Linked DNA regions of Homo sapiens. The protein of the gene in region 1 purifies or fractionates together with the protein of each later gene. This does not show direct contact. Each region holds a gene or a part of one and is shown on either strand. Other genes may lie near its edges.

Region 1 (3,862 bases):
TCAAAATTAGGAAGAGATTTGGTGGAGGTTAAGCATAGGAGAGTCCTGACAATAGGGGATTTCCTAGATTAAAGTGACAGAATTTCTTTCAGCATTAATATCTTACTAAATTTTTTTAGAGATAATGTGTTTATAAAGACATTAATTCTGTGAAAGTTATCATAATCTATAATTTAAAATACTATGTAATAGATTTCTTTATATTACTAAAGAAATTAATTGGCCTTTTATATTTTACTCCTTAACTAGGAAAACCAGTAGATTCCCAGACATCGCGAAGTGAATCTGAAATTGTGCCAAAAGTTGCTAAAATGACTGTATCTGGAAAGAAGCAAACTATGGGATTTGAAGTGCCTGGGTAAGACTTTGAGTACCTCCCTCATCCCCACCCCCACCCCCAAGTTTTTGAAATCACTGTTGCTTCTGTAAGAAAGAGACTGTTTCAATTTCGCATAATATATCATTAGCACTGAAGTATCATATATCCTCAGTATAACATAGTACAAAGAGACAAAATGAGAAATTAGGCTTGATTCTGGCCTTATCTTGTGTGTATTACTTACTCTACCTCACTGCCAGTTTTCTTACATAAATATTTTATAGCTACTTTAACATAAAAAACCCTATGATTTTGTGAAACCTAGCACTGTGAGATAGGGAATTCTTATACCACTAGGTGGCAGAGGTAACCAGATTTTGGAGTGAGTCCCCGAATCATGGAATCATTAATTAAATTTTTTAATAACTAAAATATTTTTAAACTCTTTTGGATTTTCATATTGAATAAATTGGACCATTGTAGCAAAGACGTAAATTGGACCATTGTAGCAAAGACATATGATATGAAACATATGTAGAATTTCAAATATGTAGTGAAAAATGGAAATAAACCATACCTTGGTAGCACTTGTTTGTTCTTATCAAAGTCTCTAGAATCCTTCCAGGAGTTTTTATAGACAAGGGAAGTGAGTTGCTTTAAAGCCATTAATTTTTAAACTCTAAAATTTTTCAGAATTTTCAATTGTTACTTATAAATTATATGTATTTTGTCTGCCAAAATGATAAACGCTGTTATCAAATATAAACAATAGGTTTTTACTATAAACAATAGATTTTTATATATATATACTTTTTTTCCTTTTTTTTCCTCTTTTCCCAAGTTATATTTTTTTAAAAATATAAACCCAGGAACCTTATTTATTTTTTTTTTCCTTACAATATTCTTTTGTCTAAACTAGTGAGGTATTATGAGTTTTGGTTGGGAAGAATGTTTATCACCTAGTTCAATTTTTGGATTTTATAGAAACAAGACTTTATTCACTAGATTTCAAAGTCAGTGAAGGAAAGGACTCCTTATCTAGGACATAGTAGGCATTCAGTGTACATTAATTGAATGATTGGATGAATGAAAAAGTTAATTTTTATCATGAGTAACTTTAGCCTGTTAAAATAATTTAGAATTCTGATTCAGTCTCAAAAAGCTTCGTGTATGCCTTTTTTCCTTCTGAATTGGGATTGAGTTGTCAGAATTATAATTGCCCTTTTTGTCCTTATTCTTGAGTACCATTTAATTCTATTATGGGATTTTTACATACAGAGAGAGAGAGAGGGGGGAAATAAATAGAATACACAATTTATTGTTCTAAGGATTTTATAATCTTAGTACAAAAGATTTTTCAGAAGTCTTAACATGCAAATGAACCCAAATTAATGTATTATATTAGAAGTAAATGCATAGGTATCTAAATGAATAATTATAAAGATAATGGGTAATAAATGTATCAATAAATAATGTGCATAATTTTTGAAAACTCTGTAAGTACAATGCAGGCCTTTCAGAATTTTATGACTATATTCTTTGTGAGGCCAGGGACTGTTAATGTTCATCACTGTATTCCTTTTACAGAATAGTTATTAAATATTTATTGCTCAGAATCCTTGGGGAAATATGTATTATTTTAAAAATAAACTTGCAAATAACATAAAGGTAAAAAATCCACCCATGAGGCAACATTTTGATGTGGCTCTATGGGAGAAGTCATTAGAATGTGAAAGGTCTGTAGTTATAGATCGAAATACTCAGAAATGCTTAATAGTGCTCAAGGCCAACCAAGTTGTACTATTACAGGATTTTTTGAGATTTATAATAGGGATAGCACTTAGCCTATTCTGGGTTAGTCTTAAGAAAGCATATAGAAACACAGTGAAACACTTTTGAGTCAAGATTTCAGCATCATAGGTTTCTACGTAGTGTGATTCTCAGTGGTGTCTTATTTTAAAAAGGATACGGCTGGGTGCAGTGGCTCATGCTTGTGATACCAACACATTGGAAGGCTGAGGTGGGAGGATTGCTTGAGCCTAGGAGTTTGAGGGAGCTATGATCCTGCCATTGCATTCCAGCCTGGTCAACAGAGTGAGATCCTGTCTCTATTTGGAAGAAAAAAAAAAAGGATAGTGCATAATGCATTGCTTGGAAGGAAATGAAACAGCAAACTTTCTTTTTCTTTAATAATATTAAAAATAGTAGATGCAAGTAAGTGCATGTAAGTAGAAATGGAACATTGCATATAGAAGAAATATTCTTTTAACCTCTTAAATCTCAGTTATTCGCTTCTAAGTATTTAACTCCAGAAGAAAGATTAAACCTCTAGATTCATGTATAGTTTACTTTTAGAAAGGTAGTTTAGAGAAAAAAAAGACTAGTCATTTTATAATATTAGGTAAGTGTACAGGGTGGGCATTGTGGCTCGTGACTGTAATTCCAGCACTTTAGGAGGCTGAGGTGGGAGCATCACTTGAGCCTAAGAGTTCAAGACCAGCTCGGGCAATATATTGAGATTCCCCCATCTCTACCAAAAAAAAAAAAAAATTAGCTGGGTATAGTGGTGCTTGCCTGTGGTCCCAGCTACTTAAGAGGCTGAGGTGGGATCACTTGAACCTGGGAGGCCAAGACTGCAGTGAGCCAATATTGTACCACTGCGCTCCAGCCTGGGCAACACAGCGAGAGCGAGACCATCTCAAAAAACAGAAAGAAAGAAAGAAAGAAAAAAAGCTTACAAAATGATACCAGAAAGCACCTGAAAAAAATCCAACCAACTTATTCTTTCATTCATACCAGTCAGTAATTAATTATAGGCCTGAAATCCAAATGGTCATTTTTAGACCTTATCTTAGATATTTTTCAAATCTTAAAACATTGACTTTTATTTCATAATATGCAGAAGTTTTTTTTACTAAGGGCAGACTTACCTAGGATACTTTTCTAATTACTTTGGTCATTTCCCACTAACACTGTAGAATTTTAGTGAATTAATTTACAGTTTACCTAAGATTTACTTAAAAGGGGCCGGGTACAGTAGCTCACCCCTGTAATATCAGCACTTTGGGAGGCCGAGGCAGGTGGATTACTTGGGGTCAGGAGTTCAATACCAGCCTGGCCAATGTGGTGAAACCCTGTCTCTACTAAAAATACAAAAATTATCCGGGTGTAGTGGCCAGCGCCTGTAATCCCAGCTACTCAGTAGGCTGAGGCAGGAGAATTGCTGGAACCTGGGAGGCGGAGGTTGCAGTGAGCTGAGATCGCACCATTGCACTCCAGCCTGGGTGATAGAGGGAGACTCCATCTCAAAAAAAAAAAAAAAAAGAAAAGAAAAAGATTTACTTAAATGAAAATGCTATCCTGAAAGCCAGAGGAAAACAAACCTTTCATGTTATTGAATTGCAGATGAAATGATCAAGTCAGCCCTGTTTTGTGAAGCCCTTCCTATTCTGGCAGCCCCTCTGAGGGCTGCCTGGATTGGTGGGGGAGCTGAGCTTCAAGCCCCTGCCCACTCTGTCCACCATAGCTGTCTGCTTTGATCTG
Region 2 (3,862 bases), on another chromosome or scaffold:
AGTGCTGGGATTACAGGCATGAGCTACCATGCCTGGCCAATAAAAAAAATTTTAAAAAACAAAATAAAAAAGCAAGCGATGGGCTGGATTTGGCCTGCTGGCCAGTAGCATTGAATTAGATGGGCACACCTCTGGCAGACATTACTGATCAATCACAGCCTTGACTGTTTCTTAGAAGTAACCACCGATCCATCAGAGTCAGATGAAAATTACTTGGGGATGGCCCTGGGAGGGGTGATCATTAAGGCCCTTTCCCACTGTAGAAGTCCGCTGAAAACTTATTTGATTTTCTGCCTCCTTCTCTTCATTTGGAGAATTTAAATACACCTCTGTAGTGTGTGATTTTTGCTTTGGTAAACTTGTGCAAAAGCATCCTGATTTGATGTCCACTGGTTGCCATTCTCTCCTGAGGCCATTCGTGGAGACATTGGGTACTTGTCTCTGCTTCTGAGGTGAGTCACGGAGACTTATGCACCAGAGTGAAATGCTGAGATGTTCTTGGGTTTCTTTTTATTTTGTAGGACTTATTTGGAGACAAAGAATTTCTTCCCCAGAGTGCGTTTTTGAAGTGGCTGGGTACCCACGTTTGCACTCATGTCATACTGAAGGAGCTCTGTGGAAATCTCTGTTTTCTTCTGTGTGGATTTAATGAGAGAAATTTAAATATGGTATGCATGTTTATAGTAAGATTTGATTTTTTTTTTTATCTGTGAATGTGCTTATTTGTGTTGAATGATATGGGAGAGGTGGGAATGACCTCATCAGAACTCTAAAGAGTCTTTCATTTGAGAGGCACAAGCATGAACTTTGGCCAATGCCTAGAATACGGTACCACCTGCTGCCATCCTCAGGCTGACTGTGGTCACCTTCTTATGTTGTACCTAGATGGAGATTATTGAATGAGGAGATCTGTCACAAATTAAGCTGTAATATTTATAATTACTCTAGTGATTTGTTTCTTTTAGAAATCATTATAAGTATAAACATAAAGATGGGAACAATAGACAGTGGGGACTCCAAAAGGAAGGAGGGAGAGGGACAAGGGCTGAAGCCTGTTGAGTACTATAGCCAATATTGAGTACTGTGGTTATGGGATCAATAGAAGCCCGCATCTCAGCATCATGCAATCCACCCTTGTAACAAACCTGCACATGGACCCCCCGAATCTAAAATACACAAATTTTCAAAAATTACTATAAGTATTTAAATTTGGAACGGCCATTTACATACACATAAGTGTATGCTTGCAGTGTGTGTGTATTTATAAAAGTACATTTTATAAAATGTAAACCCATTTTATTTTATAAAATATAAACCCTTGGCCAATACTATGCCCGTGTTTCTAAATATGTTTGTTAGTTTGTCATGTGGCATTTTGAAAAAAAGGGTTAAAATCCTGGAATAAAGGCCCTAAGGAATTTCAGTGCCATTTTTCTTTTGTCTGATAATTAAAGCAAGGTGTGATTGTTATATGAAATTTGGGAAATTCAGGAAAGCATGAAGAACAAAATGAAAATGCCCTGTAAACGAAACCCACACAGTCCCGTGCTTACCATGTTGTTGCACCTCCTTCATATGGACTTTGTATGTGGTTGTATGTATTTTTATAGGGCAGATTTTTAGTCAAATAATTTTTTTCTACCTCTCATCTCACATACTTGAGATTATGGCTCTAGTTTTTAGTGCTTTGAAGGGCAAAATACAATGTTTATTATCAATGCCACCTTAATGCTGTTTTCATTCTTCATTTCAATGTATTTATTTTGCAGTCTAGAGTGGATGTATATACAACACATTCTCCTGCTGGAACTTCTGTGCAAAACATGTTACACTGGAGCCAGGTAGGCATTCCAGGAGTGCATTTGGGGTTCATGTAAAATCAACATCAGAAAGGTCTGGGCATGCAAACCCTTTCCAAATAGAAAGACAACCTGCTTACAAATCTGATCTGGTTTTCTTCCCCAGAGTCCTGGGTTTTTGTCATCGTGCTTGTGTTGCTTTTGATACCTGTGGTGGGGCACACTGTGTTATACGTGGGTTCACAAACAGCTACTGGGGTTGACATTTTTCTTTTCCCTCCTCTCCCTTCCTCAAGTCTCAGGTTAATATATTCTCTCCCTTTCCTTCTCCCCCAGCTTTCTTTTCCTCCTCCTGTTTCCTCCCCTCCATCTGCTTCTCATTGAGTCCTAGATTTTTTTTATTTCTGTGTTGCTTCATAAAGAGTGATTTTAAGTCCGTTTTGGAGATAGAAACCGCTGTTTCAACACTAACCCCTGATCACAATATGCTTGGAATAGCAGTGAATAAACTGGAGCTAAACCAATGATAGATGTGAATGGGGGCCCCTGACTTTTGAAATACAGTTTTGATTATTTTATCATGTAAATAAGTCATGTTCATTCTAGAAAATTTAGAAACTACATCTAGAAAAAAATTATCTTAAAATGAAAATAAAATCATTCTATAACCCTAGACAGAGAGGAAATGCATATCCATAGATATTGAATGTCTCTGCATTCTATTCTATACCTCTTTTCAAAAAGATGCTGTTAAAGACATGGATAGAAATAGTAGATGTAGAAATAGATTGATTTTTCTCCTGCTTACTGTTTTACAGCTTGCTTTTCTTTTTTCACCTGACAATATGTCAGGGACTTCTTTCTACCTCAGGACATAATTTTGTGCCATTTATTTTTCAGCTAACTTCATTTTTAATATGAAACAACTCACCATTTAAGCCCTAAACCAAGACACTGTAGGTGTCTTGAATAGTAATTTCCAAACACCTGGCAGTCACTGCTTGCATCAGAATCACCAAATTGCTTTAAAAAGTACACTATTTAATAAATCATTGCATTAAAAAAGTAATGAGAGTTGGAATTATAGTGGAATTCTTGGATTGGCTACCATCCAGGCTTATAAAACAAATACTCCTGTGTCCCAATCATTTGGACTAGAGAATCTGTACTTTTATTTTTTCGTTTTATTTTATTTTTTTGAGATGGACTCTCACTCTGTTGCCAGGCTGGAGTGTAGTGGTGCGATCTTGGCTCACTGCAACCTCCGCCTCCCAGCTTCATGTGATTCTCCTGCCTCAGCCTCCCGAGTCGTTTTATTATTTTAAAAAAAAATTTTTTATTGAGGTATAAGTGACATAGAATATTTAAAGTATACAATTTGATATATTTCAGTGTTTGTATACACCTGTGAAACCATCACCATAATCGACACAGCAAATATATCATCATCCTAAAAGGTCCCTGCTGCCCCTTTGTGATACCTCCCCCCATCCCTCCCCTCAATCCCACTGATCTGCTTCCTGTCATTGTAGCTTAGTTTGCATTTTCTAGAGCTTGCATGAGAACAGTCATGCAGTTTATACTTGTTTTTGTCTGGCTTCTTCCACTCAGAATACTTGTTTTGAAATTTTCCTATGTTGTGTATGTCAGTAGTTCATTCCTTTTTATTTCTGAGGATCTGCATTTTTAAAAAATCTGCCTGGTAGATTCTTTTGCTCCACCAGGTTTGGGAGCAGACCTGTTCGGGACATCCTGATACTTTCATCTCCTTCTTCAGTTGCCCCAGGAACTCTAACAGTGCTATAGTTCTCCTTTCCCTGGGGCTCGTCTCTAAGGAACTAGGAAGAGCCTGGCCTGAGGCTCCTGGTCCTTTATAGTAACTAGAAGGCTGAGAGTTAAATGTCAGTTCCTCAGGGGCAGAGTTTGTTGTGGCCTAAAAGAGGGGCATCTGGAATGCAAATAGTTCATGACGTGCTGAACAGCACATGCTTACCACTTAAGGAATGCCCCCAAACCTTCAAAAATCCTCAAATTCACAAAGATTGAGGATTTTCGTTCTTGGT

The links. Proteins that work in one complex are often made in the same cells at the same time.
Region 2: the proteins of HBS1L (region 1) and LIPA purify together in Homo sapiens (affinity purification with mass spectrometry; one large-scale study listed by BioGRID and IntAct). This does not show direct contact.

What each region holds. Positions count from the first base shown.
Region 1 is NC_000006.12:134,999,230-135,003,091, reverse strand, and holds part of HBS1L (HBS1-like protein), read left to right. Parts: intron 1-249; coding exon 250-358; intron 359-3,862. UniProt on the Homo sapiens protein: GTPase component of the Pelota-HBS1L complex, a complex that recognizes stalled ribosomes and triggers the No-Go Decay (NGD) pathway.
Region 2 is NC_000010.11:89,220,490-89,224,351, reverse strand, and holds part of LIPA (lysosomal acid lipase/cholesteryl ester hydrolase isoform 1 precursor), read left to right. Parts: intron 1-521; coding exon 522-668; intron 669-1,769; coding exon 1,770-1,841; intron 1,842-3,862. UniProt on the Homo sapiens protein: Catalyzes the deacylation of cholesteryl ester core lipids of endocytosed low density lipoproteins to generate free fatty acids and cholesterol.